Linked DNA regions of Homo sapiens. The protein of the gene in region 1 purifies or fractionates together with the protein of each later gene. This does not show direct contact. Each region holds a gene or a part of one and is shown in the gene's direction. Other genes may lie near its edges.

What was found.
Region 2: the proteins of TTC27 (region 1) and NMD3 fractionate together in Homo sapiens (co-fractionation; one large-scale study listed by BioGRID). This does not show direct contact.
Region 3: the proteins of TTC27 (region 1) and DNAJC12 purify together in Homo sapiens (affinity purification with mass spectrometry; one large-scale study listed by BioGRID and IntAct). This does not show direct contact.
Region 4: the proteins of TTC27 (region 1) and RIC3 purify together in Homo sapiens (co-immunoprecipitation; one large-scale study listed by IntAct). This does not show direct contact.
Region 5: the proteins of TTC27 (region 1) and EAPP purify together in Homo sapiens (affinity purification with mass spectrometry; one large-scale study listed by BioGRID and IntAct). This does not show direct contact.
Region 6: the proteins of TTC27 (region 1) and ARMH3 fractionate together in Homo sapiens (co-fractionation; one large-scale study listed by BioGRID). This does not show direct contact.
Region 7: the proteins of TTC27 (region 1) and GFPT1 fractionate together in Homo sapiens (co-fractionation; one large-scale study listed by BioGRID). This does not show direct contact.

What each region holds. Positions count from the first base shown.
Region 1 is NC_000002.12:32,812,581-32,817,232, forward strand, and holds part of TTC27 (tetratricopeptide repeat protein 27), read left to right. Parts: coding exon 1-35; intron 36-4,652.
Region 2 is NC_000003.12:161,241,811-161,246,462, forward strand, and holds part of NMD3 (60S ribosomal export protein NMD3), read left to right. Parts: intron 1-697; coding exon 698-843; intron 844-4,525; coding exon 4,526-4,638; intron 4,639-4,652. UniProt on the Homo sapiens protein: Acts as an adapter for the XPO1/CRM1-mediated export of the 60S ribosomal subunit.
Region 3 is NC_000010.11:67,807,189-67,810,688, reverse strand, and holds part of DNAJC12 (dnaJ homolog subfamily C member 12), read left to right. Parts: intron 1-3,500. UniProt on the Homo sapiens protein: Probable co-chaperone that participates in the proper folding of biopterin-dependent aromatic amino acid hydroxylases, which include phenylalanine-4-hydroxylase (PAH), tyrosine 3-monooxygenase (TH) and peripheral and neuronal tryptophan hydroxylases (TPH1 and TPH2).
Region 4 is NC_000011.10:8,112,920-8,117,571, reverse strand, and holds part of RIC3 (protein RIC-3 isoform a precursor), read left to right. Parts: intron 1-4,652. UniProt on the Homo sapiens protein: Molecular chaperone which facilitates proper subunit assembly and surface trafficking of alpha-7 (CHRNA7) and alpha-8 (CHRNA8) nicotinic acetylcholine receptors.
Region 5 is NC_000014.9:34,529,202-34,533,853, reverse strand, and holds part of EAPP (E2F-associated phosphoprotein), read left to right. Parts: intron 1-314; coding exon 315-410; intron 411-4,378; coding exon 4,379-4,496; intron 4,497-4,652. UniProt on the Homo sapiens protein: May play an important role in the fine-tuning of both major E2F1 activities, the regulation of the cell-cycle and the induction of apoptosis. Promotes S-phase entry, and inhibits p14(ARP) expression.
Region 6 is NC_000010.11:102,045,657-102,050,308, reverse strand, and holds part of ARMH3 (armadillo-like helical domain-containing protein 3), read left to right. Parts: intron 1-4,652. UniProt on the Homo sapiens protein: Involved in GBF1 recruitment, Golgi maintenance and protein secretion.
Region 7 is NC_000002.12:69,376,837-69,381,488, reverse strand, and holds part of GFPT1 (glutamine--fructose-6-phosphate aminotransferase [isomerizing] 1), read left to right. Parts: intron 1-4,652.

The sequences.
Region 1 (4,652 bases):
GGAAGTTGTTCAAAGAGCCTTAGGACTTGCACATGGTATTTGATGTAACATTTGATATCCATGGAATGTTTTGACTTATTTTCTACTGACAGAAAAGAGTGTTGGTCAAAAGTAAAGTTCCATTATAAATAGTATCAAATTATTTCATTATATTGACATTGTTGTATTTAATTCAGCAAACATTCATAGACCACCTACTATGTAATAGGCATTTTGAAATAAGAAGAAGAAACAGGATAGAGGCTTATATTCTGTTGGAGTAAGTAACAGAAATTGGAAACTTTTTTAGAGATGTGAAACATCTTTACAACTTTGTATAACCTTCATTCCACACTGAGTTTCACTGTATTGATTACATAGCATTAAGGAAATCTGTTAATTTTAACTTGACTCACACATAGATCTCTGGGGTACATAGCAGTATGCAGAGCTGTAGCATATACAAAAGAAATATAAAATAAAAGCCTTATCTTTGGGAAATGGTAGAGGATATTGTTTGAGGAAAGGTTTAACCTTACATATAAAATTATATGCCTGTTGGGTAAATATAGTCCAAATAAGCATTGCTTTTAGTTATTAATTTTTAAAAATGCCAGTTAAATTTGGTAATGCATTTTTATATTTATATTTGAATATGGGTGTGTGATGCAGTTCCAATAAAATAATGATGCCCCCAATGTTAAGAACTGAATCACAAAGACCTTACACCAATCCTAAAGTTCTCCTTCTACTTCCCTGCCTAACTAACTTCCTTGCTGCCACTAATAATTACAACAAATAGGGAGCAAACAAGGAAGAATGCAAAGGGCAGAGCTTTAAGATCAGGGAGACCTAAGCTCCAGGACCAGCTCTATCACATGCTTGCTAGTTGACCTTGGGTAAATAATTTAACTTCTCTGAGCCTTACTTTCCTCATCAGTAAAATGGGATAATACCTACCCATGAAGAATAAATGAAAACATTCAAACACTTAGCAGTATTTCACACATGGTTTAGATATTAATACCCTACCCTCTCACCACCACCCTCTTCCTTCCAAAGTAGAGGACTTGAGCTATAGATGATAAGGGACTCAAAACTAAAAAAACAAAAATTAAGAACAAGGATAAAGTTTGGCTTGCTTATAAAGAAGTCACAGAACATTCAGAAAATTTAGAAATTAGCTTGGTAGTTGATAATTCTACTTTTGACCTTTGATATCTTTGACCTAAAGGATATAAATATCTAATTTCCTGGGTCACCAAGCACTTGGCAGAGAAGGTAGAAGTGCTGAGCTCTATATAGCTGAAAGTCAATGTAGAAAAGTTGGGGGTAATTGCTAATAGAGCCGTAGAAGGATGTTTTGGGGGTGGTTAGAATTCATGTGGCTTCTACTGACCTCATGATGGGTGGGCTCAGTTGGGATCCAGTCCTTATGCTTTTGGTCTTTGTGGATATTGTATGATATTTGGGGAAACCCACACTGATGTATTAGGTACATAATTAGCAGGATGGGATTTACTTTGAAAAATTTATCTTATCTACTTCAACTTGCCAACTCTAAGCATTTCTATGAACTGCTCGTCTGTAACAGTCAAAGCCACGCTATTTTCTGAACTCACCAAGTAATGGTATTAAACCTGTCAAAGAGAGATATGCAGGTTAAAGAGATACTCTAGGAAAAATCTTTATTTTGCATCTTAAAGTTGGGTTTAAACTGTTATTGGCATTATTTTCTTCATCAGGGCAATACTTGGAGAAAAACAAGTGTCCATTCTTTTAAGTTCTCCTCTGACATCATTGAATTATGTGTTCATGCTCCTACAACATTTTAAGCGTATTTGAGTGGATGCCCAGCTTTCGTTTCTGATGATATTTTAGATTTACAAAGATAAATCTTAATCATTTCCTTGTTACTTTTGTACCTTAGTGCAGAAAGAATAAGCTGGATTTCTCTGTGTATGAGTCTCTTCAAAACATTGTTCCTCCACCCCACCCAATTATAAAAAGGAAATACAATCAAGCATCCCATAGCAACATTTTGGTCACCAGTGGACCCACATATATGACAGTGGCCCCATAATATTGTAAAACCATATTTTTACTGTACCTTCCCAATGTTTAGATAGACAAATACTTACCATTGTGTTCTGATTGCCTGCAGTGTTCAGTACAGTCACATGCTGTACAGGGTTGTAGCCTAGGAGTAGTAGGCTATATACCATGTAGCTAGGTGCATAGTAGGCTATACCATCTAGGTTTGTGTAAGTACACCCTATGATGTTCTCACAACAACAAAATTGCCTCACCACACATTTCTTACACCGTATCCCCATCATTAAGTGATGCATGACTGAATAACATTTTTAAAAATCTCCACATGGTTTACTCCTTGGGTTGCTATCATTAAGGTAGCCATGCACTTCAGAAAGCTTGATAAGATATTGCGACCTTGACATAGTATTTGAGGCCTCCCTATAACAATGTCATCATTGTGTGCTCATTTGTATTGTCTGGAAGGTATACATTTATAGTTTCTGCTATTTGATTTTCTGGGAAAGGGTGGGCTAAAGTGTTTCAGCTCTTTGCCATCCAGGAGTTTTTAAAATAAGAGTTAATGCATTTTAACTGCAGTTTACATAGAGGAGGCACTGCTGCTTCAGATTTTTTTTTTTTTTTTTTTTTTTTTTTTTTTGAGACGGAGTCTTGCTCTGTCGCCCAGGCTGGAGTGCAGTGGCGCGATCTCGGCTCACTGCAAGCTTCGCCTCCCAGGTTCACGCCATTCTCCTGCCTCAGCCTCCCAAGCCAGCTGGGACTACAGGCGCCCACCACCACGCCCGGCTAATTTTTTGTATTTTTAATAGAGACAGGGTTTCACCGTGTTAGCCAGAATGGTCTCAATCTCCTTACCTTGTGATCCGCCCGCCTCAGCCTCCCAAAGTGCTGGCAGATTTTCTGATGATTTGAAACAGCAAGTTATTTCTCTCCCTCTAGCTGTCTGTCTCTATCTCAGTCTATAATGCCTTTTGGAAATGGGATTGAGTAGGAAAACTAATAGAGTATATCTGTCTTTTTGCTTTACTTTTGTTTTTGTCAGAATGAAAATAAGGGATTAAAAAAGAAATACAGCAGTTTCTGATCTAAACTGCTGGGTACTAAACAGCTCAAATACCGCTGCCATGGTGGTTACAACTTTCCTCTACTAAGAGAAACAGATTAATAATCCCCGCTATCTCTGGGCTAACTCTGCCTTTTGAAAATGGGCTTAACATTGCTAATTATTATGCATCCTCTCACCCTTTAATGAGAAATGTCAAAGTCTAATTATTATTCCTCATTATTACTCTAAGATAGGAATGTCAAACCTAGTTCTTGCTGGCCTTGGAAGATATTAATTAATGACAGAACTCTGTTTTGCCAGGCACAGGCAGCCTCTACCGATTGATTAGTCTTTGCGTGCAAAAAGAAATCTATTGGGCTGGGTATGGTGTCTCATGCCTGTAATTGGGAGGCTGAGGTGGGTGGATCACTTGAGCCCAGGAGTTCAATATCAGCCTGAGCAACATAGTGAGACCCCATCTCTACCAAAAAATTAAAAAATTAAAACATTAGCTGGTTGTGGTGACATGCACCTGTGGTCCCAGCTACTTGAGAGGCTGAGGTAGGAGAATCACTTGAATCCTGCAGGTTGAGGCTGCAGTGAGCCATGATTGTGTCACTGCACTCCAGCCTCGGTGACAGAGCGAGACCTTGTCTCAAAAAAAAAAAAAAATTGATTTTCTATCCTTGGTCTACAATCTAGAGTATAAAGTAGACTTTAATCCTTGCGCTGTTTAGTGTCATTTTAAAGGAGTATCTGATTATTGGTCTGTTTGAATTTAGTGAGCATAATTTAGGGAACAAAACCAAGAACAAGCCAGTGGGGAAATATTGGGCATTATGTTTGTACAAAGCTCTTCACTCGTTCTCATAAAGCATTAATAGCCAGGCCTTCTACCAGGAAGAACGATGCCTTCTTCGTAGTTTCAGGTTTTGGGAAAATGAGTTCCCCAGAATGCTGGGAGCAGAGTTGTGATTCACTCTTGCCCATTCCCTGCTGATGCCAAGCCTTGCTCAGGAACTTAAGAACCTGGTTGTGGTCGCGTTCTCTACATGAAGACACATGGGTTGCTGTCAGTGCTTCCTGAATGGTGCTTCAAACCCTGATTATGAAAATGCAGTAAGAATTGAGCTGTACAGATCTGGCATGTCACTTCCTTGGGCTTGTGTCATCAGCAGTTGTGAAGTCCCCATTGGGGACTTGGTAGCATGGAAAGCCACACAAAGATGTGCTGCATCTGTTTTTGTCTGTGTGGGTACTTTGTTTTCAATAATATTTTGTCTCCTTGCCTAATTTTATTTGTCTATGCACATGTGTGCGTGTGTGTGCTCGAATGCATGCGTGTATATGTGTTTAGGGTCTCTTCCCAGTGATCCGTAACTCACCAAAAATCACCTGTTTTTCCCAAAATTCCCTGGAGCAGTAAATTACCATTCTTAAAGAAGGATAGAGAAAGGCCAGGTGCAATGGCTGACACCTGTAATCTCAGTGCTTTGGGAGGCTGCAGCAGGAGACTAGCTTGAGGCCAGTAGTTCAAGGCTGTATGCCACACCTCCAGACTGAGCGACAGGGT
Region 2 (4,652 bases), on another chromosome or scaffold:
GAACATTTGGCTTTTTGTGGCCCATTGGAACATTTAGTTTGAATATGAATTTTAACCAATTTTGTTATTACTGTAGATCATTTTTTAACATTGTCTATAGAATAAATTATTTTTTAAGGAAGACCACATTTTGGTAGGTATCTTAGTATTTGGATGTATCTTCTGCTTGATCTTTTTCATGTATTTTCTGTAATATAAGTTTCCTTTATACAAAAAGTGAGTTTATTTTGATATTTTTCAAAGTCATTCATTATCTTTATCAGTTAGGATTCATAAGTTAAAGATCTGTTAGCAATATTGGGATGGACATTCTTTACCTATCTGGTAGAACTAGGCTTTATTTCCCATAAACTAAGCAGCTAAGGTGACAGATACGTTTCTAAAATAAAGTGCCAGCACGTGAAACAGCTGTACCACTGATTGGCTCTGATCTTACTTAAGAGGCACTTAGCCCTGTGGCATTCTGGTTATAGTAACTATTTAAGATATGTTTGACATCTGATATATTTTTCTTGTGCTTTGAGAAGTTTGGGATTGGTTTATAGGAGTAATTGATGACCCTAAGGAGTGAGTTGACACTAGTTCTGTTGACCTGCCACTTCCCAGTTGGTATCTACCAGTTTATTCTTAGTTAATACATTTGATAATTGAAATATATAATTTTTCTTATGTTTTTGTGTTCTATCCTTATTTTTAGTGGCAGATATTGATGGGAGCACTTTCTGGAGTCACCCTTTCAATAGTTTATGTCATCCCAAACAGCTAGAGGAGTTTATTGTGATGGAATGCAGCATAGTCCAAGATATAAAACGTGCTGCAGGTGCTGGAATGATATCAAAAAAGGTAAGCTACATCCTGCCTGCCAGTGTATTTTTTTTTCCCCTCAGTTATTATTGTTTCAGTCCCTCTTTTAAAAAAAATTTGTTGGTGTTTCCACAGTATGGAATCCAAACTTAGCACCACATTAGGAAAAAAATTCTTTTTTTTTTTGTCTTTTTAATATGTGGTCATTGTGGAAATTGTTAGACTTAGACTGTTAAGTTAATTTATTCTCTTTTGTGTAGGAAAAATCTTTTAAATGTTTATTCCATTATATTTAAAAAAGGCATTTCTTTGCTTTATTTTTATAGAGGAGGACCTTTATTTTTGTAGTGGTTATCTTGACTTTTAAAAAGTCATCACCAAATACTAAATACTTCAGTGTGCATCTCTCACACACAGGAATATTTTTCTACATAATGAAAATGTTGTTACCATACCTATAAAACATACAGTCTACACAGTATTCTGCTCTTATCCATGGGGATACATTCCAAGACCCCCAGTGGATTTTTGAAACAACCCACAATAGTACCAAACTCTATGTGTATTGTTTTTTCCTATACATACATACCTATGATAGAGTTTAATTTATAAATTAGGCACAGTAAGAGATTAACAATAATTAATAATAAAATAGACCAATTATAATAATATACTGTAATAAAAGTTGTGTGAATGTAGTCTCTTTCTTAAAGTTATCTAATTCTACTCCACCAACCTGTTTTTGGATAGCGATTAACTGTGGGCAGATGAAAACTTTGAAAGGGAAACTATGGATAAGGGGGGGATTACTGTGTTCAGATTTCCTCATTTGTCCCAAAAGTGTCTTTTATGCCTTGTTCAAACAGGTATTCAATTGGAGACCACTCATTAAATGGGAATATTATACCTTTTTAGTCTTTTATTTAATAATAGTCCCCTTCTTTTTTCTTTTATTGGTTATGATACCAACTTCCTTAGACAACTAGTGCATTTATCTTGTAGAATACTCCACCTTCTAAATCTATCTAATTGTTTCCTCATGATGCCATTTAACTAGCTTCTTAATTCATTGTGTTTCCTCTAAACTGGAAAGTTGATCTAAAGGTTTGGTTACATTTAGGTTAAATTTTTCTTGCCAGAATATTTCAGAGATGATGCCATGTACTTTTTATTATATCAAGAGACAAGTAATGTCTGACTGTTTCACTTGTTAACATAGTGATAGTCAGATTCCTCCATTGTAATGTTATGATTTTTTTTCCTTCTGACCAGCAAGCAATCTGTGGCTTAATACTATAATAATATGCAAGTACTGAGTTCCTGTTACCTCTTTTTTTTTCTGGCTTTAGCATCTGTTGATAATTCTTGCCCATAAATTAATTATTTTATTCAGGGTTACAAAATGGTGAATTTTCTATTTCTATTCTACATTTACTAGCTGTCATTCTTAAAGAAGAGCTTTTCATTATTAACTAGGGGTTATGTAGCTTTCCTGAAATGCTCGCCTGCATACATTCTTTTAATTAATTAATTTTAGACATGATCTTGCCGTGTTGTTTGGGCTGGAGTGCGGTATGGCTTCATAGCTCACTGCAGCCTCAAACTCCTGGGCTCAAATGATCCTCCTGCCTCAGCCTCCTGAGTAGCTGGGACCACAAGTATGTGCCACCATGCCCAGCTAATTTTTTAATTTCTTTGTAGAGATGGGGTCTCCATGTTACTCAGGCTGGTCTTGAACTCCTGAGCTCAAGCAATCCTCCTGCCTTGGCCTCCCAAAGTGTTGGGATTACAGGCGTGAGCCACCTCCCCTGGCCTATGCATAAATTATTAATTCTTTTAGCAAATATTTTTAGAGTAAAGAGTTGATCTAGGAATCATTTCCAGTGGTGAAAATTAGCTTACATGTACAGGTGGTGTCTCTCTTTGTGATTATCATTGTGATCTCCTGAAGTATAAGTATTGTATCATTTACTGTATTTTCTTTTGTTTTCTTCTTCTCTCCTCCTCTCCCTTCATTTCTTTTCCTTTTTTTTTTTTTTTTTTAAAGAGACAAGGTCTCACTCTGTCTCTCAGAGCTGGAGTTCAATGGTATGATCATAGGTCACTGGAACCTTGAGGTTGTGTGCTCCAGTGATCTTACCACCTCAGCATGCTGCCACACCTGTCTCATTTCTATTTTTTAATTTTTTGTAGAGTCAATCTCACTGTTTTTTCAGGCTTGTCTCAAACGATCCTACTGCCTCCCTTATAGGAATGAGCATGAGCGCCTGCCCTTTCTTTTTTTTGAAATCCTCATATTGCCCTAAATTTATTCAATGGGAGCCCCTTCAGAATGGTTCCTATGTTGTTTTGACGTGACTCTCCTGGTCTTTGAAAGCATCCTTGATTTCTGGTGCAACACAGCATTCAGGTGTTCCAGAATCACATGTATAGTTTATAACCCATATCTGAAATCAAATGTTTCTTCAAAGATGAAAGTCTGGCTTCTTTTACTGTGAAATAGTATCTAGAGACTCCCAGGGTACCCTTGTGTGTGTGTGTGTGTGTGCGTGCTAATAATGCTTCTTGAGACAAAAATAACTTGTGATAATTTGGGAAAAATTAATGGAAATGGAAGACAGATGACATTCTACATTTTATTTATAAATTAAGGTAATGTACTTAGGGCAAACTTTTCATTTATAATAAATGTAGAGTATCATTTCCCTTCAGGCAGATATAAAACCAGATACTGTATTTTCTTGGTTTTTAAAAAATAGCTAGAAGAGGTTAATAAATTTCTTACAAGCAGAAGTCTAATAGCTAGAAAGTAAATCCTGTTAAATAAAATGTAGTCTCCCTGTTAATTGACTTTTCTTTTGCAGTTCTTAAGTTTGAGACTTGTCTTTTATTTCAGTTTCTCCTTCTGCTCTATTTCTTTTCATTTTTTTCATTTCTTTTTCTTTGACCAACTGCAATAAGAAACACTTGATTCTTTTCATAACTTTATTTTGAGATTCCTTAATTTTATTTATAACTCTTAGTATTTTTCTCTCGATCTCACTTCAGTTGGTCTGTCTTTGTTGTTAAAGGTGTTGGCATGTTAGAAAGGGAATTAATAGTTTTCTAGTTTAAAAATTGGGATGTTGTTTCTGCTATATATATATTATATATAGCAGATGTACTATATTATATATAGCAGATGTAGAGAATGATTGTAGTCTACACTAGTAGATACTTTAAAAATTAATTTGATAAAGATTTGGCCTCTCTAGTGGTTTACTACCAGGATTTCTAGGCTGTTTTGTCTGGACCCTGATTTTCTGAACCCTTGTGTCAAGCAAGAGTTTGCTTGGAATACGTTCTTGCTTTAAGATTCCCCTACCTTTTCAGTTATTTTGTTCACTCTGCCTATGTTGGCCCATCTTCCTGTGAAAACATTTCTTTTGAAAATTCTACATATATATATTTTTAGGGACATTATTAATGTTTTATAAAAGTCTTGAATAAAATCTTAGAAAAAGTCAATGATTTATTTTTATGAATTGTTTGTGAGTCTTTCTATACTCATGATTCAGTAATTTGTTAATTTTGACAGTGTTTCATACATCAGAAAAATACAAAAAATTTTCTGTCTTTAAAAATTAGAAAACCAAAAATCAATATTGTATTTAACTTTTCTCTGAGATGCTTTTAGAGTTATGTTTAGATTATTGAAGAGTACATTTTCTTTCCTCTTAAGCATACCCTCGGGGAAGTCTGGGTACAGAAGACATCTGAAATGAATACAGATAAACAGTATTTTTGTCGTACTCATTTGGGACATCTTCTAAATCCCGGAGACCTGGTGTTAGGGTTTGTATTATTTC
Region 3 (3,500 bases), on another chromosome or scaffold:
ATAAAAGACCTCGGCCTCCCAAAGTGCTGGGATTGCAGGCATGAGCCATCGCACCTGGCTAGATTGTTAAATCTCATAAATTCCCTTTCCTTCACACCATCAACCCTGTGTTTCTGCTTTTTGTTTAAATAGTATAATCCCTCTGGAACGGAAAAGCATTGTTTGGGAACATTATTAGTCCCTATACCCACAAGGCAGGACAAATCACGGTGTACTTTTGTAGCATCACACACAGGATCATATCTTGGGAATTTCCTTTGGGAGAATTCCTCAAACGAGCCACAGCCTCAGGGGTGCCACATTTTTTTAAATTAAAAACTTCAAAAAATTTTCAATAGCTTTTGGGGTACAAGTGTTGATATGGTTTGGATTTGTGTCCTGCCCAAATCTCATGTTGAATTGGATGAGGGTCCTGATGGGAGGTGATTGGATCATGGGGGCAGATTTCCCCCTTGCTTTTCTCATGATAGTGAGTTCTCATGAGATCTGATGGTTTAAAAGTATGTGGCAGTTCTACCTTCTCTCTCTTTCCTGCCACCATGAGAAGAAGGCCCTTTCTTCCCCTTCACCTTCCGCCATGATTGTAAGTTTCCTGAGGCCTCCCAGTCATGCTTTCTGTTAAGCCTGAGGAACTGTGAGTCAATTAAACCTCTTTTCGTCATAAATTACTGAGTCTCAGGTAGTTCTTTACAGCAGTGTGAAATGGACTAATACAAGTGGTTTTTAGACACATGGATGAATTGTATGGTGGTGAAGTCTGAAATTTTAGCGCACCCATCACCTGAGTAGTATACATTGTACCCATTATGTAGTTTTTTATCCTTCACTCTCCGTCCCAGCCTCCCACTTTGAGTCTCCAAAGTCCATTATATTATACCACTCTGTATGCTTTTGTGTATCCGTAGCTTAGCTCCCATTTATAATGGAGAACATACAATATTTGGTTTTCCATTCCTAAGTTACTTCACTTAGAACAATGGCCTCCAGGTCCATCTAAGTTGCTGCAAAAGATATTATTTTGCTCTTTTTTAGGGCTGAGTAATATTCCATGGTGTATATATCCACCACATTTCTATCATCCAGGAGTGATGCAACTGAACTGGTATTTTTTCCCTACACTAAGTCTGTCACTTTACTACCTACTTATTTATTTCTTTTTGTTTTCTAGAAGTTCCTCCTGCTAGTTTAATTGGTAAAAATATTTTAAGACCTCACCCAGGTCAATGAATATGTTGGCGATTTAAATTTAGACATGTAGTATTGGTTTGAAAAAAAAGGTTTGGAGTGAGGATTCAGTAATTCAGGCCTTTGGGATCCTGGGATAACCTGAAGAGTTATCCCAGGATTCCAGAGAATCTTAGGGAAATGTATCTTTGTCATGCTAAATGGTTTTACCCAAAGAGACCCAGGGTGTGGATGGCTCTCCCTCTAGCACCAAAATATATGGCAGCATGGATTTAGGATGCCTATGGGAAAAAGAAGCCACAGCAAAGGCACAGTCAAAATGAATGGCTAAAAAAAATTCTCATAAGCCGTTAAAACTATCTTATGCCACTTCAATTGCTGTAAATTTTATAAAGAGTTAATAGAAACACATTTTTGGTGAATTGATCATTTGACAAATTGATTGCCTCTGGGAGGGCTTGTTGGGTCAGCCTCGTGTGGACCTATTTGTCTGCTGATTGTTTCTGGGTTCCCAGCTGGGCAAGGTGTCTTTGGGGTGGGTTCAACTGGCCATAGACTACCTATCCAGAAAGCTTCCTACACTATGCCCACATGGCCACAGTTTCACCAGCCAGATGGGAAACAGTATGCAATTCAACACCTTCTGCTGGTTCAAAAGGCAATCTGTCTTAATTGGATGTTATCCAAAAGCAGGTCAGAAATCACCCTGATAAGTGAAAAATCCACTCATGGTGATCACTGATCCAGGATAATAATAACCAGTCAATTTTGTATAGCTATTCAGCTGATCTATGGCTCATCTGAGTCCATGGATTTAAAAAAATGTTGTGCCAATGTTTACTGGCATGTAAACAAAATTTTTTATTTCCCTGTGTGTTTGTGTGTGTGTGTGTGTGTTTTAATGGAATGCTTCGCGAACGTGCCTGTTGTCTTTGCACAGGGACCATGATCATTTTCTTTGTATCATTCCAATTTTGGTATATGTGCTGCTGAGACGAGCACTATTTCCTAGTATTGACCAAGGTCTAGAATGTAAGAAAATGACTTCCTAGAGAAAAAAAACCAACTCGTTCAAGAAAGCTAGTAAACAAGTTAATTGTGAAGGCAGAATAACAACATAGAAATTTCACAGACTGTTAAGATTAGTGGCCTTTGCACCTAGGCTTGCTGTCTGTTTAGCGTTAGTTCCTTCCATGCATATATAGATTTTCTGTCTTGTGCATTTTATTATCTTGCTGTAGACTCTCCCCTTTCTAGTCTCTCTCTTAGTCTGTATCAATTGCTGTCATTTGATATCTTTTATTGATGCTGATTCTACTGAAATGAGTAGCTGCATAATAGACTAGTTCGCTTGATGTTAAATGTTGTTCTGTGCAACTAATACCCTTGTGGAGTTGAGAAATATGCTTGTGAACACAGAAATGAGTGATTTGCAGACTATCTAACTGTGTCCCAGCAAACCAGGCTGCTTAGCATCACTCTGATGTTAGTCCTTTGATTGAACTACAAAGCGTGAGAAGCACTTGTATCTAAGGTTAGATACAGTTTGGATATTTCTTCTGTATATTTCTTTAATGAGGATCAGCAGATATGGGAGTCTGATAACATATTTTATTCTGATTTACTCACAAAGGAGATGGATAAGACTACTATTTCAGAACATCTTTTCACTGAGGACCTTTAAAGCATTTACTGTGGATTAGACATTAATCCTAACCTATCTAAGACAGACCACAGGTACTTTGATTTCAAGAGAGAAGTACTGAGGCACAGAGATCAATACATCACGTACAGGCCACTTTGCTGGCTTGTGAAGCTCACAGTTTACATTTTCAGCTCTCTGGGCCCTGAATTCTTGAATGTCTTATTCCTTGTTTTTCACTAACCTTCCTAATATCCTTTTCCCTCTGCAGAGGAAGTCACTGGCAGCCTCTTTTATTTTGTGCATATGCAAAAACCAAACCAAAACAACAAACCTAAACCAACCAAACAAAAGTCATTTTTTTTTTTAATACCAGCTGAGGCATTGCCTCTTTTAAAAATTAACGTTTTTATTTTGAAATAAAATCTACAGAGAAATGGGTAATACTTGCATTTACAATTTAGCAAATGGTTTTGAAGTGTTTACTCTGTAACTATTCCCTTCCCACACATATTGTTGGCACCAGGAATCTCCCACCTTGTATGTTTTTGCATCGAAACTTCGCCTAATTTTTAAAATTGAATATTTTCTTTTTTTTTTTGAGACAGAATCTCGCTCTGTCACCCAGGCTGGAGTGCAGTGGTGCGATACCAGCTCACTGCAACCTCTGCCT
Region 4 (4,652 bases), on another chromosome or scaffold:
CCTTTGACTAGCATTTCCCTGATCCCCCTAGCTTCTGATAACCACCATTTTATTTTCTTAATGAGCTTGACCTTTTTACACTCCATATGTAAGTGAAATCACGCTGTATCTGTCTTTCTGTGCCTGGCTTATTTCAGTTAACATAATGTCCTCCAAGTTCATCTAGGTTGTCATAAATAACAGGATTTCCTTTTTGAAAGCTCAGTAGGCCAGGTATGGTGGCTCACGCCTGTAATCCCAACACTTTGGGAGGCCGAGGCAGGTGGATTGCTTGAGCCTAGGAGTTCAAGACCAGCCTGGGCAACACGGTGAAACCCTGTCTCCACAAAATACAAAAATTTGCTAGGCATGGTGGCATGTGTCTAGTCCCAGCAACTTGGGAGGCTGAGGTGGGAGGCTGAGATGAGTCCAAGAGGTGGAGACTGCAGTGAGCTGAGATTGTGCCACTGCACTCCAGCCTGGGTGACAGTGTGAGACCTCGTCTCCAAAAACAAAAAAATGCTAAGTACTATTCTGTTGTGTATATGTGCCACATTTTCTTTATTCATCCATTCATGGATGTTCAGATTGATGCTATAGTGTGGCTATTGTGAATAATGCTGCAGTGAACATGGGAGTGCAGATATCTTTTTGACATACTGATTTCTTATCTTTTGGATATATATCCAGTAGTGGGATTACTGGATCATATGATAGTTCTATTTTTAATTTGTTGAGGAGCCAGTATACTGTTTTCCATAGTGACTGTACTAGTTTACATTCCCAGCAATAGTATATAAGGGTTCCCTTTTCTCTACATCCTTGCTGACACTTATTATTGCCTTTTGTCTTTTTGATAATAGCCATTCTAACAGATGTGGTGATATTGTGGTTTAAATTTTCATTTCTTGAATGTTTAATGATGTTGAGCACTTTCTCATATGCCTGTTGACTATTTTTCTGTCTTCTCTTGAGAAGTGTCTATTTATATCCTTTGCCCATTTTTAAATTGGGTTTTCTTTTGCTGTGGAGTTGAGTTCCTTATATATTTTGCATATTAACCCATTATCAAATATATGGTTTGCAAATATTTTCTCCCATTACATAGATTGTCTCTTTACTGTTGTTTCCTTTGCTGTACAGAAACTTTCAGTAATCCCATTTGTCTATTTTCACTTTTGTTGCATGGGCTTTTGGTGTCATATCCAAAAATATCATTGTCCAGACCAATGTCATGGAGCTTTTTCCCTAGGTTTTCTTCTAGTAGTTTTACAGCTTCAGGTCTTATGTTTAAGTCTTCAGTGCATTTTGAGTTGATTTTTGTAAATGTGAGGTGTGAGATGAGGGTCTAATTTCACTGTTTTGCATGTGGATATCTAGTTTCCCCACACCATTTATTGAAGAGATTGTCCTTTGACCTTTTTGTGTTTGTCCTTTGACCTGTGTGTGTGTGTGTTTTATTTTTTGGCATCTTTGTTTAAAAAAATTGACCATAAATATGTGGATTTATTTCTGGGCTTTTATTCTGTTCCATCAGTCTGTGTGTCTGTTTTTATGCCAGTAACATACTGTTTTGATTACTATAGCTTTGTAGTAGATTTGGGAATCAGGTACTGTGATGCCTCTGGCTTTGTTCTTTTTGTTCACAATTGCTTTGGCCATTTGGGGTCTTTTGTGGTTCCATATGAATTTTAGAATTGTTTCTTCTATTTCTGTGAAAATTGTCATTGAAATTTTGATAGGGATTGTATTAAATCTGTAGATTGCTTTGTATAGTATGGACATTATAGCAGTATCAATTCTTCCAATCCATAAACGGGACATCTTTTCATTTTATTTGTGTCTTCTTCAATTTCTTTCATCAATGTTTTATAGTTTTCATTTCAGCCTCCCAAGTAGCTGGGATTACAGGCATGCACCACCATGCCGAGCTAATTTTGTATTTTTAGTAGAGGTGGAGTTTCACCATGTTGGTCAGGCTGGTCTCGAACTCCTGACCTCAGGTGATCCACCTGTCACAGCCTCCCAAAGTGCTGGGATTACAGGCGTTAGCCACCGCACCTAGCCTATACTTTCATATATATATATATGTATATTTGTGTTACTGAATAGTGTCCCTTGCTCTCTACTTGAAGAACACCCTTGAGCATTTTTTATAAGATAGATCTTGTGGGGATAAGCTCCTTCAGCTTTTGTCTGGCAGAGTCTTTGTTTTTTCCTCATTTCTGAAGGAGAGCTTTGCCAACTACAATATTCTTGGTTGACCTTTTTTTTTTTTGTTTTTGTTTTTGTTTTCCGTAAGCATTTTGAATATATTATCCCACTCTTTTCTGGCCTTTAAGGTTTCTGCTGATAAATCTGTTAGAACTCCCTTATAATGTGATGTACTTTTTTTCTTTTGCTGCTTCCAGCATCCTCTCTGTCTTTGATTTTTGATAGTTTGATTATAATACTTCTTGATATAGTCTTACTTGAGTTCAGTCTGATTGGAGACTTTTGACCTTCTTGTACCCAGATATTTATAACTTTCCCCAGATTTGTATAGTTTTCTGCTATTATTTCTTTAAGCTTTCTATCCCTTTGTGTCCGTCTCCTCCTTCTTGAACTCCAGTTCCCATAAATCCCATAAGCTTGCTTTCTTTTCATTCTTTTTTTCTCATCCAACTGTATATTGTCAAATAATCTGTCTTTAGATTCAAAGGTTCATTCTTTTGCTCAATCAGTTCTGCTGTTGATACTCTCTATTGCATTTTTCATTTCAATTCTCGTATTTTTCAGCTGTAGAATTTCTGTTTGATTTTTTTAATATAATTTCAATCTCTCGTAAATTTTTTGTTTTAGTTATTTATTGTTTTCCTGGTTTCCTTTAATTGTTTCTCTGTATTTTCTTGAAGTTCGCTGAGTTTCCTTAAAACAGTTATCTTGAATTCTTTGTCAGGCAGTTCATGTGTCTTCTTTTTCTTTCTTTCTTTCTTTTTTTTTTTTTGAGATGGAGTTTTGTTCTTGTTGCCCAGGCTGGAGTGCAATGGCTTGATCTTGGCTCACTGGAACCTCTGCCTCCTGGGTTCAAGCGATTCTTCTGCCTCAGCCTCCTGAGTAGCTGGAATTACAGGCGCCTGCCACCACGCCCGGCTAATTTTTTGTATTTTTAGTAGAGATAGGATTTTACCATGTTGGCCAGGTTGGTTTTGAACTCCTAACCTCAGGTGATCCATTTGTCTTGGCCTCCTAAAGTGTGTGAGATTACAAGCGTGAGCCATCACGCCCGGCCGTATCTTCATTTCTTTAGAGTCTGTTCCTGGTGCTTTATTTTGTTCATTGGTGGCAACATGTTTCCTTGATTGTTCTTGATCCTCATGGCTATGCATTGGTATCTGTGCATTTGAAGAAGCAGGGACTTTTGCTGGTGAATGGTTTTTGCATTCTGGCTTTGTCCGGAAAAGCCATTCACCAGTCAGCCTGCCCAGAGATTCTGGGTAGGCCATTTGGTGTGATCTGCAGGTAGACTTGCTGGTAGAGTCCTTAGGCAGGGTGGCCTGGTGTTGAGTCCGTGGGGTTGGGGTTGAAGCCTGGATCCACTGGGGTGTACCTGTTGATTGGATCCTCAGGCATGGACCTGGTGCTTGTATCTTGTGCAGAGAGGCTATCCCAAAGCCTAGGTCCACAAGGGCTGACCTGGGGCTGGACTGGGCCTTGAGCCTGGGTCTTCAGAGATTGGCCAGGTGCTAGGATGAACCTGGTGCCCGGGTCCACTGAAATGGGCCTGGAGGCTGAGTCTGATGGATGTGTCTGAAGGCTAGGTTCATTAGGGCTGGCTTGGGTCCTGGGGCCACAGGCCTCAGCCTAGAACCTAGGTCCATAGGGGCAGTCCTGGGGTTCTGAGGGCCGGCCCAATGCTGGGGTCTACTGGGTTGGGCTAGACCCAGGGTCTGCTGGATTGTGGGAATGCAGGGGCCAACCTGAAGGTGGGGGTGGTCATAGAGACTAGCCTGGCACTGGGCAGGCCTGGAGCCTGTGTCTGCAGGCTCCAATTTGGGTGCCATTGGGGTGCCAATTTGGCACTGGGCTATGTGGGCAGACCTGGCTCTGGTTTTGTCTGGAACCTAGGGTGGGACTGGATTCTGGGGCCATAGTTGCTGGCCTGATGCTGGGTGGGCCCGGAGTCTGTATCTGCAGGGGCCAGCATGGAGGCTGGGTCTGTGGGTGCAGGCATTATGACTAGGGATGCAGAGCTGGACTGAGGCCTGGTGTTGGGGTAGGCTGAGAGCCTGAGTCTGGGTGACCTTCCCTCTTAAAGCAGATAGTCATGAAAATTCAAAGATAAGCTTTGTTCTAAGTGTGGGAAGACAGGGACATGCCAGCAAATGGACTTCTTTTAAGCATTCAGTGGCTGGGAGCTGACTAGCAAGCAGCTTCTCCAGATCCTATCCTTGACCATGGTGGCTGAGGGTCTTGGGTTAGCTAAGCTCCACTTTACCTAGCATTCCATCCGCAGTAAGTTAAGCCTTGGAATAAAGACTGCATTGGCAAAATTCTTAACATACTACTGTGAGTGCTGGTGAGGGTGTCATAAGATGGACAGTCTTTATATCACTGGTAGGATTGAAAATTTATACCACTCTTCTGGAAAGTAATTTGGCACAGTATAAAAAAGGCTTTTATAATGTCCATTC
Region 5 (4,652 bases), on another chromosome or scaffold:
GGTATACTGTATGACTGAAAGGTAGAGATATGTGTGCTGGCAACCTGAAAATATCGCTATTTTATTTAATGAGATTTGTGGGAAGGGAGAGAGAAGAATTTTCTCAAGATTTGGAACATTTTAAGGAGGGCCAGTTCTCTGTAACTGTATAGGGCATAGACATCGAGTAATTCACTGATGTGAAAATATTTCACCATCAAATGAGTTTGTGAATGAGTTGATATTGTTTTGAGGTGATGGAAGAATATATGGAGTTTTTTGCCTTGTGAATTATGTATGATTTAGTCTGTAAACTTTACTTCTGGTTTGAATAGGATCTTCCTCAGGAAATGGAAAAGTTGCAACAGCTCCGACAAGGTACTACGATGATATATATTTTGATTCTGATTCCGAGGATGAAGACAGAGCAGGTAAGTAACCTATTTACCAGGTTTAGCAGTTATATTTTATAAAAAAGGTTTACCTAACAATTATTAGATGTTAGGATTTCCCTCTGAGTTTGGTCTTTTAAGAAATTACAGCTAGGCATGGTGGCTCACACCTGTAATGGCAGCACTTTGGGAGGCTGATGCAGGCAGATCACCTGAGGTTGGGAGTTTAAGACCAGCCTGACCAACTTGGTGAAACCCCATCTGTACTAAAAATACAAAAATAAGCCGGGCATGGTGGTGCACGCCTGTAGTCCCAGCTACTTGGGAGGCTGAGGCAAGAGAATCAGTTGAACCCAGGAGGCGGAGGTTGCAGTGAGCTGAGATTGCACCATTGCACTCCAGCCTGGGCGACAGAGTGAGACTGTCTCAAATAAATAAATAAATAAATAAAGTGGATGCCATTGATGTGAAAACAAAAGCAGGATTGATTAATAAGAAAAACTGGGGGCTGGGCATGGTGGCTCACGCTTGTAATCCCAGCACTTTGGGAGGCAGAGGTGGGCAGATTGCCTGAGGTCAGGAGTTCTAGACCAGTCTTGCCAACATGGTGAAACCCCATGTCTATTAAAAATACAAAAAAATTAGCCAGGCTTGGTGCCATGCACCTGTAATCCCGGCTACTCAGGAGGATGAGACAGGGAAGTTGCTTGAACCAGGGAGGTAGAGGTTGCAGTGAGCTGAGATCGCATCATTGCACTCCAGCCTGGGCAACAGAGTGAGACTCCGTCTCAAAAAAAAAAAAAAAAAAGCTGGGGACACAGGCATGTGAGGACATGGCACCAACAGTGGTGCTGCTTGGATGTACCTAGGGAGTGAGAGAGAGTGTGTCCCAACTCAATACCTCCCCTCCTCAGGGCTTTTCCCCCCTCTTCCTTTAGGTTTCCTATAGTAGCAATATTTGTTTTCATGCCTGAAAATAGTTTCTATGTTTTAATCCTCCTGCAGAATTTTTTTTTTTTTGAGATGGAGTTTCGCTCTTGTTGCCCAAGCTGGAGTGCGATGGCACCACCATCTTGGTTCACTGCAACCTGTGCCTCCCGGGTTCAAGCAATTTTCCTGCCTCAGCCTCTTGAGTAGCTGGGTTTACAGACGCCTGTCGCCATGCCTGGCTAATTTTTTGTTTTTTTAGGAGAAACGGGGTTTCACCATGTTAGCCAGGCTGGTCTTGAACTCCTGACCTCAGGTGATCCACCCGCCTCAGCCTCCCAAAGTGCCGGGATTACTGGTGTGAGCCACCGCGGCCTGGCCTCCTCCTGCAGAATTTTTCTTAATGCGTTGATTTTTAATCAGCCTCTATGTTCAAAATTGAATTTTTCTTTCTTTCTTTCTTTCTTTTTTTTTTTTTTTGAGACGGAGTCTCGCTCTGTCACCCAGGCTGGAGTGCAGTGGCGCAATCTCAGCTCACTGCAAGCTCTGCCTCCTGGGTTCACGCCATCCTCCTGCCTCAGCCTCCCGAGTAGCTGGGACTACAGGCGCCCGCCACCACACCCGGCTAATTTTTTGTATTTTTAGTAGAGAAGGGGTTTCACTGTGTTAGCCAGGATGGTCTTGATCTCCTGACCTTGTGATCCACCCACCTCGGCCTCCCAAAGTGTTGGGATTACAGGCGTGAGCTACTGTGCCCGGCCTGAAAATTGAATTTTTATAAAATTTGAGCAAAGTTGAACATAACAAGAGCTAAAACTAATTATTTCAGTAATTACAATGAAATATTCAAATAGCAAATTTCTGTGGTAAAGAACAATATTATACTTTTATGCATTGTTACTTAAATATTGACCTGTTAGAATGTATGTGTTTGTTTATTTATTTATTTATTTTGAGACAAAGTCTCGCTCTATCGCCCAGGCTGGAGTGCAGTGGCGTCATCTCAGCTCACTGCAAGCTCTGCCTCCTGGGTTCACACCATTCTCCTGCCTCAGCCTGCTGAGTAGCTGGGACTACAGGTGCCCGTCACCACGCCCGGCTAAATTTTTGCATTCTTAGTAGAGATGGGGTTTCACTGTGTTAGCCAGGATGGTCTCGATCTCCTGACCTCGTGATCCGCCCGCCTCAGGCTTCCAAAATGCTGGGATTACAGGCATGAGCCACCGCGCCCAGCCTTGTTTATTTATTTTTTAGGCAGAGTCCCACTCTGTCACCCAGGCTGGAGTGCGGTGACACAGTCTTGGCTCACTGTAGCCTCTGCCTCCTGGGTTCAAGCGATTCTGGTGCCTCAGCCTTCCTGGTAGTTGGGACTACAGGCACAAGCTACCATACCCGGTTACTTTTTGTATTTTTAGAAGAGACAGGATTTCGCCATGTTGGTCATGCTGGTTTGAAACTCCTGATCTCAGGTTGTCTGCCCACTTTGGCCTCCCAAAGTTCTGGGATTACAGGCATGAGCCACCACTCCCTGCCTGCTAGAATACATTCAAAAAGTCTAGTGTATGTAGATGGCCATAGTTTTTTTTTTTCTCTTTTTTTTTGTTTTTTTCCTCTTCCTTTCTTTCTTTCTTTTTTTTTTTTTTTTTTTTTTGGTAAAGATTGGGTCTTGCTTTGTTGCTTAGGCTGGTGTCAAATTCCTGGCTTCAAGCAATCCTCCCAAAGTGCTGGTATTACAGATGTGAGCCACTGTATCTGACCTCATACTGTTTTTTTTAATTCACTTTTGAAATATTTTTGTTCTAATTTTAGTAGCATTTTATATATATATTCATACATCATAAATAATTTCTATTCTTGGCTTGTTTTGAGTGGCTCTTTTGAGTCTCTGAATTCTCATTGTTTGAACTTAGTCCTTGAGATACCAGTTTTGGGTAAATAAACAATTTTTGCCTCCTCTGTCATTTTAATGCCTTATTAGTTGGAGAAGAACTTTATTTTTTAAATTTTTGTTAAATTTTTTACTTTTTTAGAGATAGGTCTCACTCTTACCCAGTCTCCAGCAGTGCAGTGGTGCAATTATAGCTCACTACATCCTCAGACTCCTAGGCTCAAGCCATCCTCCCAGCTCAGCTTCCCTAGTAGCTAGGACTACAGGTGTGCCTGGCTAATTTTTAATTTTTATTTTTGTAGAGATGGGGTCTCATTATGCTGGCCAGGCTGGTCTTGAACTCCTGGCCTCAAGCGATCCTCTTGTCTCAGCCCCTCAAAGCTCTAGGATTATAGGTTGTGAGCTACCGCACCCTACCTGGACAAGCACTTGTTTAGATGAAGGGTTTTTTTTAACTTTTTTTTTTTGAGACGGAGTTTTGCTCTTGTTGCCCAGGCTGGAGTGCAATGGCGTGATCTCGGCTCACCACACCCTCCACCGCCTGGGTTCAAGTGATTCTCCTGCCTCAGCCTCCCAGGTAGCTGGGATTGTAGGTGCCTGCCACCACGCCTGGCTAATTTTGTATTTTATTTTATTATTTTCTTTTTCTTTGAAACGGAGTCTCGCTCTCATCACCCAGGCTGGAGTGCAGTGGCACGATTTCGGCTCACTGCAACCTCTGCCTCCTGGGTTCAAGCAGTTTTTCTGCCTCAGGCCCCCAAGTAGCTGGGATTACAGGTGCCTACTACCATGCCCAGCTAATTTTTATATTTTTAGTAGAGAGGCGGTTTCACCATGTTGGCCAGGCTGGTCTCGAACTCCTGACCTCAGGTGATCTGCCCACCTTGGTCTCCCAAAGTGCTGGGATTACAGGCGTGAGCCACCGCACCTGGCCCTAATTTTGTATTTTTAGTAGAGACGGGGTTTCGCCATGTTGTCCAGGCTGGTCTCGATCTCCTGACGTCAGGTGATCCACCCACCTTGGCCTCCCAAAGTGCTAGGATTACAGGTGTGAGCCACTGCGCCCGTCCCTTTTTTAACTTTTTAGGGAAAATATAAATAAATGTGTAGCTTGGGAAATGAGACTCTTCATTTAAAGAAGTGTGAACTTGACACATGATTCTTAGCCATATCCTAATATTTTCAAAATTAGTACAGGTGACCAAGAAAAAAAAGAAGAAACAACACAAGATTCCAACAAATGACGAATTACTGTATGATCCTGAAAAAGATAACAGAGATCAGGCCTGGGTTGATGCACAGAGAAGGGGGTAAGAACTTAAAGTTAATATTTAGAATCTTTAGAAAAAAAGATTGAAAGATGATTTTTACTACATTCACATTTTGAATATATGTGTATATGTTTACACAAACACACACACACAAACAAAAAAGTTAGAGGAAAAAACTGCTCAGTAGTTTATTTT
Region 6 (4,652 bases), on another chromosome or scaffold:
CCTGGCTAATTTTTGTTTTTTTGTATTTTTAGTAGAGACGGGGTTTCACCGTGTTAGCCAGGATGGTCTCAATCTCCTGACCTTGTGATCTGCCCTCCTCGGCCTCCCAAAGTGTTGGGATTACAGGCATGAGCCACAGCGCCTGGCTCTATTTTTTTTATTTTTTGAGACTGAGTCTGGCTCTATCGCCCAGGCTGGAGTACAGTGGCGCGATCTCAGCTCGTTGCAACCACCGCCTCCCGGGTTCAAGCGATTCTCGTGCCTCAGACTCCCGAGTAGCTGGGATTACAGTGAATCTGGTTTTTAATGGTCTAGTTAGCTCCTGATGTTTTGCACTAACAGGACATTCTGATAGGGAGAAGCGCTACCAGAGAGAAAGATTTAATGGCTTTATCACTTACTAGTTGTGTTACTTTGGGCAAAGTAATATCCTCATTGTAAAAATAGGTTGGGGCCGGGTGCAGTGGCTCATGCCTGTAATTCTAGCACTTTGGGGGGCCTAGGTGGGAGGATTGCTTGAGCCCAGGAGTTTGAGACCAACCTGGGCAACATGGTGAAACTCAATCTCTACAAAAAATATGAAAAGTTAGCCAGGCCTGGTGGCATGTGCCTGTAGTCCCAGCTACCCAGGAGGCTGAGGTCAGAGGATCCCTGAGGCTGCAGTGAGCCATGATTGTGCCACTGCACTTCAGCCTTGAGACCCTATCTCAAAAAAAAAAAAAAAAAGTTGCAGGCCCTACTCTATTTTCTTTCTTTCTTTTTTTTTGGAAACAGAGTCTCGCTCTATCCCCCAGGCTGGAGTGCAGTGGCGCGATCTTGGCTCACTGCAACCTCCGCCTCCTGGGTTCAAGCAATTCTCCTGCCTCAGCCTCCTGAGTAGCTGGGATTACAGGCACTTGCCACGATGCGTGGCTAATTTTTGTATTTTTAGTAGAGACGGGGTTTCTGCATGTTGGCCAGGCTGGTCTGGAACTCCTGACCTCAAGTGATCCGCCCGCCTCAGCCTCCCAAAGTACTGGGATTACAGGCGTGAGCCACCGTGCCAGCCCTATTTTCATTTTGGATCTATAGAATCCTTGGAGTGAACTAGCAGTAGAAATTCATTAAAATAGAAAGGGGTTATTTGCTTGTCTTAGAGCCAGTCTTTTGGATGGAAGTGGGGGAACCTGTCCCATGCTACTGAAAGAAGCTGTGCTAAGGAACCATGTGGAACAGTAGGATGTGATCTAGCAAGTGAGCTAAATACCTGGGGCTTTTAGAAAAGAAGAAAGAATGATGCCCACATTCTTCACAAAGGAAAAAAAAAAAGAAAGTGAGAGGCATATTAGGAGATAGCTTGAAGGGCTGGGGCTTGGAGATAGAAAAACTGCATTCTCCTTAAGTTCTTATAGTGCTAATGTTTACCTCCAGGTAGTATGTTAGGTCCTGCAGAGAGGCTTAGGGAGCAGGTAACTTTTGCGTAAAGGTTTTTTAAAAAACCCTGTATCTAGAGAAACTAGGGAATTTTTAGGAGATCAGGACAGGAGACTTACTGGAAAGTCAGGGTAGGGGACTATTGCTGGCTTGATATAAACATGTTGTCTCAGCTGGGTGCGGTGGCTCATGCCTGTAATCTCAGCACTTTGGGAGGCTGAGGCAGGCGGATAACTTAAGATGAGTTCGAGACCAGCCTGGCCAACTTGGTGAAGCCCTGACTCTACAAAAAAATACTAAAATTAGCTGGGTGTGGTGGCATGCGCCTGTAGTCCCAGCTACTTGGGAGGCTGAGGCAGGAGAATTGCTGGAACCCAGGAAGCGGAGGTTGCAGTGAACTGAAATCGTGCCATTGCACTCCAGCCTGGGCGACACAGTGAGACACTGTCTCAAAATGAAACAAAACAAAAACGTGTTGCCTCCTTTGTATATTGGGTGAATGGCTCATGGTCAGATAATGGTAATATTTTCTTTGACTTAGCCACAACTCTTGGACAGATAGCTACATAAGATTTTCATCTCCATCACTAAGTATTGTGGATACTATAGTCAGTGTGTCTTGTAGTGATCTTCTTTCACATATGGGGAAATGGGCTACAGTCCCAAAGGAAGTGTGATTTAATGTGGGGAGAATGATATGTGATAAGGTGAGTGTTGCTTCAACGCCCTTTTTAGAGACTGCAGAGGTTTCATTTATTCTCTCAGTATCATCTGTCTAGATACTCCTTCCTTTTCCAAGTCTGGTTTAAGGCTGGGATGAGTACTTCTCAAACTTTAATGGTCATCAGAATTACTTGGGGCAGGGCTTTTTAACCTCTTTGATATTGACATGTTGGGCTGGATAATTCTTTGTTGTGGGAGGCTGCCTCGAGTATTGTATGATGTTTAACAGCATCCCTGGCCTCTACCTAGTAGGTGCCAGTAGTACCTCCTCTCCCAGTTGTGACAATCAAAAATGTCTCCAGACATTGACAAATGTCCCCTGGGAGGCAAAATTGCACCAGTTGAGAATCACTGATCTGGAGTGATTGTTAAAAATGTAGACCCAAGCTAGGCACTGTGGCTTATGCCTGTAATCCCAGCACTTTGGGAGGCCAAGTGGGCAGATCACTTGAGCTCAGGAGTTTTGAGACCAGCCTGGGCAACATGGCGAAATCTCGTTTCTACAAAAAAATGCAAAAATTAGCCAGGTGTGGTGGTGTGTGCCTGTAGTCCCAGCTACTTGGGAGGCTGAGGTGGAAGGATCACTTGAGCCTGGGATGCGGAGGTTGCCGTGAGCCGAGATCATGCCACTGCACCCCAGCCTGGGTGACAGAGTGAGAGGTTGTCTCTCAAAAAAAAAAAAAAAAGTTTGGTTCAATAGAATGGTAGGAAGGCTTAAGAATTTACATATTTAGGAGGCACCCCAGGAGATTCTGAAATAGGGGATCACAGCTCATCAGTATTAAAACATACTCCCTCCTAAGCTGAGGATTGTACAGACTCTTAGTTGACTTGTTTTCCATTTCTTTTTTCTGTCCTGTTTTATAGTATCTTTCTATTCATTATAAAGTTGAGGGAGAATTATCCTCAGAACACTGACTATACTCAATTAAAATAGTGAAAAAAAATTAAAAATCCTCAAAGATAGTGGGAGAGTTTAAAAAAAAATCAATTAAATCCTGTAGTGGACATTAGGGTGTTTTATCCTTAAAAAAATTACCATGTTGGATACATCTATCAACTTGACTAGACACTCAGATTCTTCTCCTGTTTTTCCCTCCAAGTTTTCTGCCATTCCTGTGAATTTGTCTATTTCTGTCTGTTTCACTTTACTATTACCTACATTTACAGACAGATGTATCTACATCAGACAATTATCTTTTACTTTCTACCATGGCACCTTCATCCACTGACAAACTAGAGTGGTGGCTACTCAAGATATCTAGACATTTCACAGTTTGTTCATTAAAGCCCATGAGTACATACTCCCCCTTACTCACCTAGAACCTCTTCACAGTTTCTCTGTAGGCCCTCAGCTTTGTTTATGTATAGATGACTCTGCTCCTGCTCATTCCTCTGCCTTTTGAGATACAGTATAGCATAGTGGAGAAGAACAGGAACTCTAATATCAGGCTGCCTGGGTTTGAGTCCCTACACTCACTTATCTGTACAAGTTTATTTTCTTTTCAATTTTTCTTTTTTTGAAATGGAGTTTCATTCGTTGCCCAGGCTGGAGTGCAGTGGTGCAATCTCGGCTCACTGCAACCTCCGCCTCCTCGGTTCAAGCGATTCTTCTGTCTCAGCCTCTCGAGTAGCTGAGATTACAGGCATGTGCTACCATGCCCGGCTAATTTTGTATTTTTAGTAGAGATGGGGTTTCTCCATGTTGGTCAGGCTGGTCTCAAACTCCTGACCTCAGGTGATCTGCCCGCCTCGGCCTCCAAAGTGCTGGGATTACAGGCATGAGCCACCAGTCTGGCCCATCTTTTCTTTTCTTTTTCTTTTTTTTTTCTTTTTCTCTTTTCTCTTTCTCTCTCTTTTCTCTCTTTCTCTCTTTCTTTCTCTCTCTCCCTCTCTTTCTCTCTTTTTCTCTCTTTCTTTTCCAGTTCATGCTTTAGTTTTCTCATTGTAAACTTTCTGGATCATAGGGTTGATATGAGGATAAAATGAATTAATATATATAAAGTGCTTAGAACAGTGCCTGGTACATAATAAGAGCTAAATAGACTCTGGTTGTTATTTTATTTTTATTTTTTTTGAAATGGAGTTTAACTGTTGTTGCCCAGGCTGGAGTGCAATGGTGCGATCTCGTCTCACTGTAACCTCCTCCACCTGACTTCAAGCGATTCTCCTGCCTCAGCCTCCTGAGTAGCTGGGATTACAGGAATGCGCCACCATGCCCGTCTAATTTTTGTATTTTTAGTAGAGATGGGGTTTCTCCATGTTGGTTAGGCTGGTCTCGAACTCCCAACCTCAAGTGATCCACCTACCTCGGCCTCCCAAAGTGCTGGGATTACAGGTGTGAGCCACCGCGCCTGGCCCTCATTCAATATTTTCTATGTAACTTACTCACATTGCTTCATGTATCAGTAATAGGCTCTTGTAAATTTCTATGTGGTATTCTATTGTATGACTGTATCATAATTGTCCCATTTACTGCTGATGGATATTTGGATTCTTCTTATATATTAAAAAAA
Region 7 (4,652 bases), about 37 Mb from region 1:
GAAGGATGAGAAGTATTTATATATTGTTAAACTGTTGAAAAGAAGATGGGTGAGGGGCAGTGACTCATGCTTGTGAACTCAGCATTTTGGGAGGCTGAGGTGGGAGGATCACTTGAGGCTTGGAGTTTGATACCAGCCCGGACAGCATATTGAGACCTTGTCTCTATATTTTAAAAACAAAAAAAGAAAATGAAGACTTTAATTCTGGCCAGGCGCAGTGGCTCACGCCTATAATCCCAGCACTTTGGGAGGCCGAGGCGGGCAGATCACCTGAGGTCAGGAGTTCGAGACCAGCCTGGCCAGCGTGGTGAAACCCTGTCACTGCTAAAAATACAAAAATTAGCCAGGCGTGGTAACACACGCCTGTAATCCCAGCTGCTGCTCAAGAGGCTGAGGCGGGAGAATCGCTTGAACTCAGGAGGTGGAGGTTGCAGTGAGCTGAGATAGCGCCACTGCCCTCCAGCCTGGGTGACAGAACGAGACTCTGTCTAAAAAAAAAAAAGACTTTAATTCTATAAAGTAAGAATCTACCAAAAATGAAAAAGAAGCTGGGAAGAGAAAATGAGGATTTGAGAGTAGTATGTAGCTTAGACTCTAAAATAATATCTGGGAGAAGTTTGAAAGTTAAGCAAGTGATGAATTAATAGGATTGGTCAGCAGTTCGGAGGGCCCATCCGAAAGTGGACCGAAATGGATAGGATAGATGAGTTCTCCTTGGCTGTCATAGTTCAGTGTAGAGATGCTCAGAGACTAGGAGTCAGAGCACAGTGGACCCAGAGGGTTTGACTTGGCAGTATGATGAAAAATTGTAGTCTGATGTGAATGGTCAGAAGAGAGAGAGATGGAATATTTGAAGATTGTGAGCAGGAAGTACATGCTTTTTTTTCTCAAGAAAGATGATGACATAGGTTGACTGTGAGGGAATGTATAGAGATGTCATGACTTAACTAGTGATTTGAGCTCCAGAATGTTAAATGTGCAAGAGACGTGTCATGGAGCCCCTTCTAGTGGCAATAGTTACAGTAAAGTAGGGGAGACATGAACCAATTAAACACACAAATAATTGAAAGTCTTAATTGTTTCACTCCATATGTTATTTTTGTATGTGTGATTTATTTTATTTTACTTTTACATTTTTTATTTTTTTGAGACAGAGTCTCACTGTGTCGCCCAGCCTGGAGTGCAGTGGCGCAATCTCGGCCCACTTCACCCTCTGCCCCACCTCCTGGGCTCAAGTGATTCTTCTGCCTCAGCCTCCTGAGTAGCTGGGACAGGCACGCGTCACCATGCCTGGCTAGGAATTTTGTATTTTTAATGGAGACGGGGTTTCACCATGTTGGCCAGGCTGATCTCGAACTCCTGACCTCAAGTGATCCACCCTCCTCAGCCTCCCAAATTGCTGGGATTACAGGCGTGAGCCACGGCATCTGGCCTTTATATGTGCTTTTAGGATTGTAGAAGATGTACCTTGGCTGGATGCATTGGCTCATGCCTGTAATCCCAGCACTTTGGGAGGCCGAAACAAGAGGATCGCTTGAGTCCAGGAGTTCGAGACCAGCCTGGGCAATGTAGTAAGACCTCATTTCTACAAGAAATAAAAAAATAACTGGGCGTGGTAGCTTACGTCTGTAATCCCAGCTACTCCAGAGGCTGAGGCAGGAGAATTGCTTGAACCTGGGAGACAGGTTGCAGTGAGCCAAGATCGCATCACTATACTCCAGCCTTGGCGACAAGAGCAAAACTCCATCTCAAAAATTAAAAATAAATAAGTAAATAAATAAATAAATTACAGGCACATTAGCATGTGCCTGTGGTCCCAGCTACTTGGGAGGCTGAGATGAGGGGATCACTTGAGTCCAGGAGGTGGTGGTTTTAATGAGCTGGGATTGTGCCACTGTACTCCAGCCTGGGCGACAGAGCAGACCCCTGGTGAAAAGAAAAAAGAAAATGTATCTCAAATAATACTTAATTTTAAAGAAATCTTAAATGTAGAATGTGATTCCATAATTATAATATTGACTAGTTCACTGCAACCTTGAACCCCTGGGCTCAAGTGATTCTCTCACCTCAGCCTTCCAAGTATCTGGGACTACAGGCATGCACCACCATGCCTAATTTTTTATTTTTGGTAGAGGCAGGGTCTCCCTGTATTGCCCAGGCTGATCTCAAACTCCTGCCCATGATCCTCCCGCCTTGGCCTACGAAAGTGCTGGGATTACAGGTATCTGCTACTGTGCCTGGCCTGTAGAAAAATTTATAGCTGAAGGACTGGGAGTGTGTGTATGGGAATAACAGTAGTTATCTCTGAGAAAGGGGTTGGAACCTGTGTGGAGACAGAAAGGAGAGATTTTCACAATTCTGTAGCATCTGTATAGTTTTAATATTTATTTATTTATTTCAAATTTTAATAGAGACAGGGTCTTGGTATGTTGCCCTGGCTGGTTTCGAACTCCTGAGCTCAAGTAACCTCTGCCTCTCTTCCCACAGTGCTGGGATTACAGATGTGAGCCACTGCTCCTGGCCTACTTTGAATTTTTAATGATGGTGATGAATTAATTTGTGACTAGCATTATAAGAAAAATAAAATTTAGAGTTTAAGTGACATTGTAGGTAGATTTTGATTCAGAAGTTTTAAGTTTAGAGAATGAATTTGAACACTTATCACTGATAAGTTACAATGTTTAGGGTCCCAAAATATTGCAGCTGTCAAATGATAAAATATATAAAAATAAAATTTAGTATTCATAAGGACATAAATGCAACCAGACATAGGAATTTTAATAATTTGACGAGTCAGTTTTCTTTTCAGTAAGGTTTAACAGTCTGTATTTGCAGCTACATTGCTTTCAACCAGGTGTGTCTAGTCTGTGATCCAGATTGCTTCTGAAATTTTGTTAGCAAGGTGCTCATAATTGCTTTTTTGTCATTGAATTTAAGTTGCCATTTATTGAGAATGATGCCTGTAGGTTCAAGCATCTGCTTCAGTTATGGAGTTATTTTATTCCAAGTATATTCCATTAGTAAGAAAGCTTACACTTGTGAAGTGCATGCTGATTTGGGGGTAGAGAATCTATGCTTATACAGCTACTGTGTGTGCTCTTAGAGCAATTACTGAAGAGTGGCGGAAAGTTGATATTAGGCTTTTGTCATTACCTTACTTAAGAACTGTTTATTGGGAGTTTAGGCCGGGTGCAGTGGCTTATGCCTGTAATCCTAGCACTTTGGGAGGCTGAGGCGAGTGGATCACCTGAGGTCAGGAGTTCGAGACCAGCCTAGCCAACATGGCGAAACCCCATCTCTACTAAAAATACAAAAAATTAGCCGGGCATGGCGGCGGCCACTGTAATTCCAGCTACTTGGGAGGCTGAGGCAGGAGAATTGCTGGAACCTGGGAGGTGGAGGTTGCAGTGAGCTGAGATGGCGCCAGCCTTGGCGACAAAGCGAGACTCTGTTTCAAAAAAACAAAAAACAAAAAACTGTTTATTGGGAGTTTTGATAAGACAAGTCAAAGACCTGAAAATAGAGGTCAGACTAACGATTTCTGCTCTAACAAGCATCATTGTGAGTTGTGAATGCCTCCCTTGTGAACATGCCCTGTGTACCTGATGAATTGCTGCCAGTATTGTCTCGGGCACCCCAAGATTACAGTTAACCCGGTATCCCCGCAGGTGGAATGTCTTGGGCTAGTAGTGCTATCAAGGGACAGGGCTATGAAACTGACAGGTTCAACTTCTTAGCTCCCATTTTCCTCATCAGGTATGTCTGAGGCTAATCCCCTTCCTTCTTCTAGCTCTGTTACTTTTTTGTTTGTTTCTTTGTTTGTTTTTTTGAGACGGAGTCTTGCTCTGTTGCCCAGGCTGGAGTGCAGTGGTGCAGTCTAGGTTCACTGCAACCTCTGCCTCCCAGGTTCAAGCTATTCTCGTGCCTCAGCCTCCCGAGTAGCTGAGACTACAGGCACGTGCCACCACAGCTGGCTATTTTTTTTTTTTTATTTTTATTTTTAGTAGAGACGGGGTTTCACCATGTTGGTTAGGCTGGTCTTGAACTCCTGACCTCGTGATCCGCCCGCCTCGGCCTCCCAAAGTGTCGGGATTACAGGTGTGAGCCACTGTGCCCAGCCAAAATGTTCTTAAGCTCTCAAGATTCATATAGTGAGCCATTATAAACCAAGGAGATTGGAGTTAGAAGTATTATTAAAGTTGAATGCTGTTGTTGAGTTACATTATTAAAAACAGTGAATTTAATATTGCATTACTTAATCTTTTTTTTTTTTTTTTTTTTGAGACGGAGTCTTGCTCTGTTGCCCAGGCTAGAGTGCAGTGGCACGATCTCAGCTCACTGCAACCTCTGCCTCCCAGGTTCAAGCAATTCTCCTGCTTCAGCCGCCTGAGTAGCTGCGATTGCAGGCACCTGCCATCATGCCTGGCTAATTTTGGTATTTTTGTGGAGACGGAGTTTCAGCGTGTTGCCCAGGCTGGTCTTGAACTCCTTACCTCATGTGATCCACTCGCCTTGGCCTCCAAGTTGCTGGGATTACAGGCGTGAGCCACCCAGCCCTGCCGCATTAATCTTTAAAAAAAAGTAGAGTCTATAAATTGTCTTAAAAACAATTTTATATCATTAGCATTTAAATAGTTTTAACACATTCATAT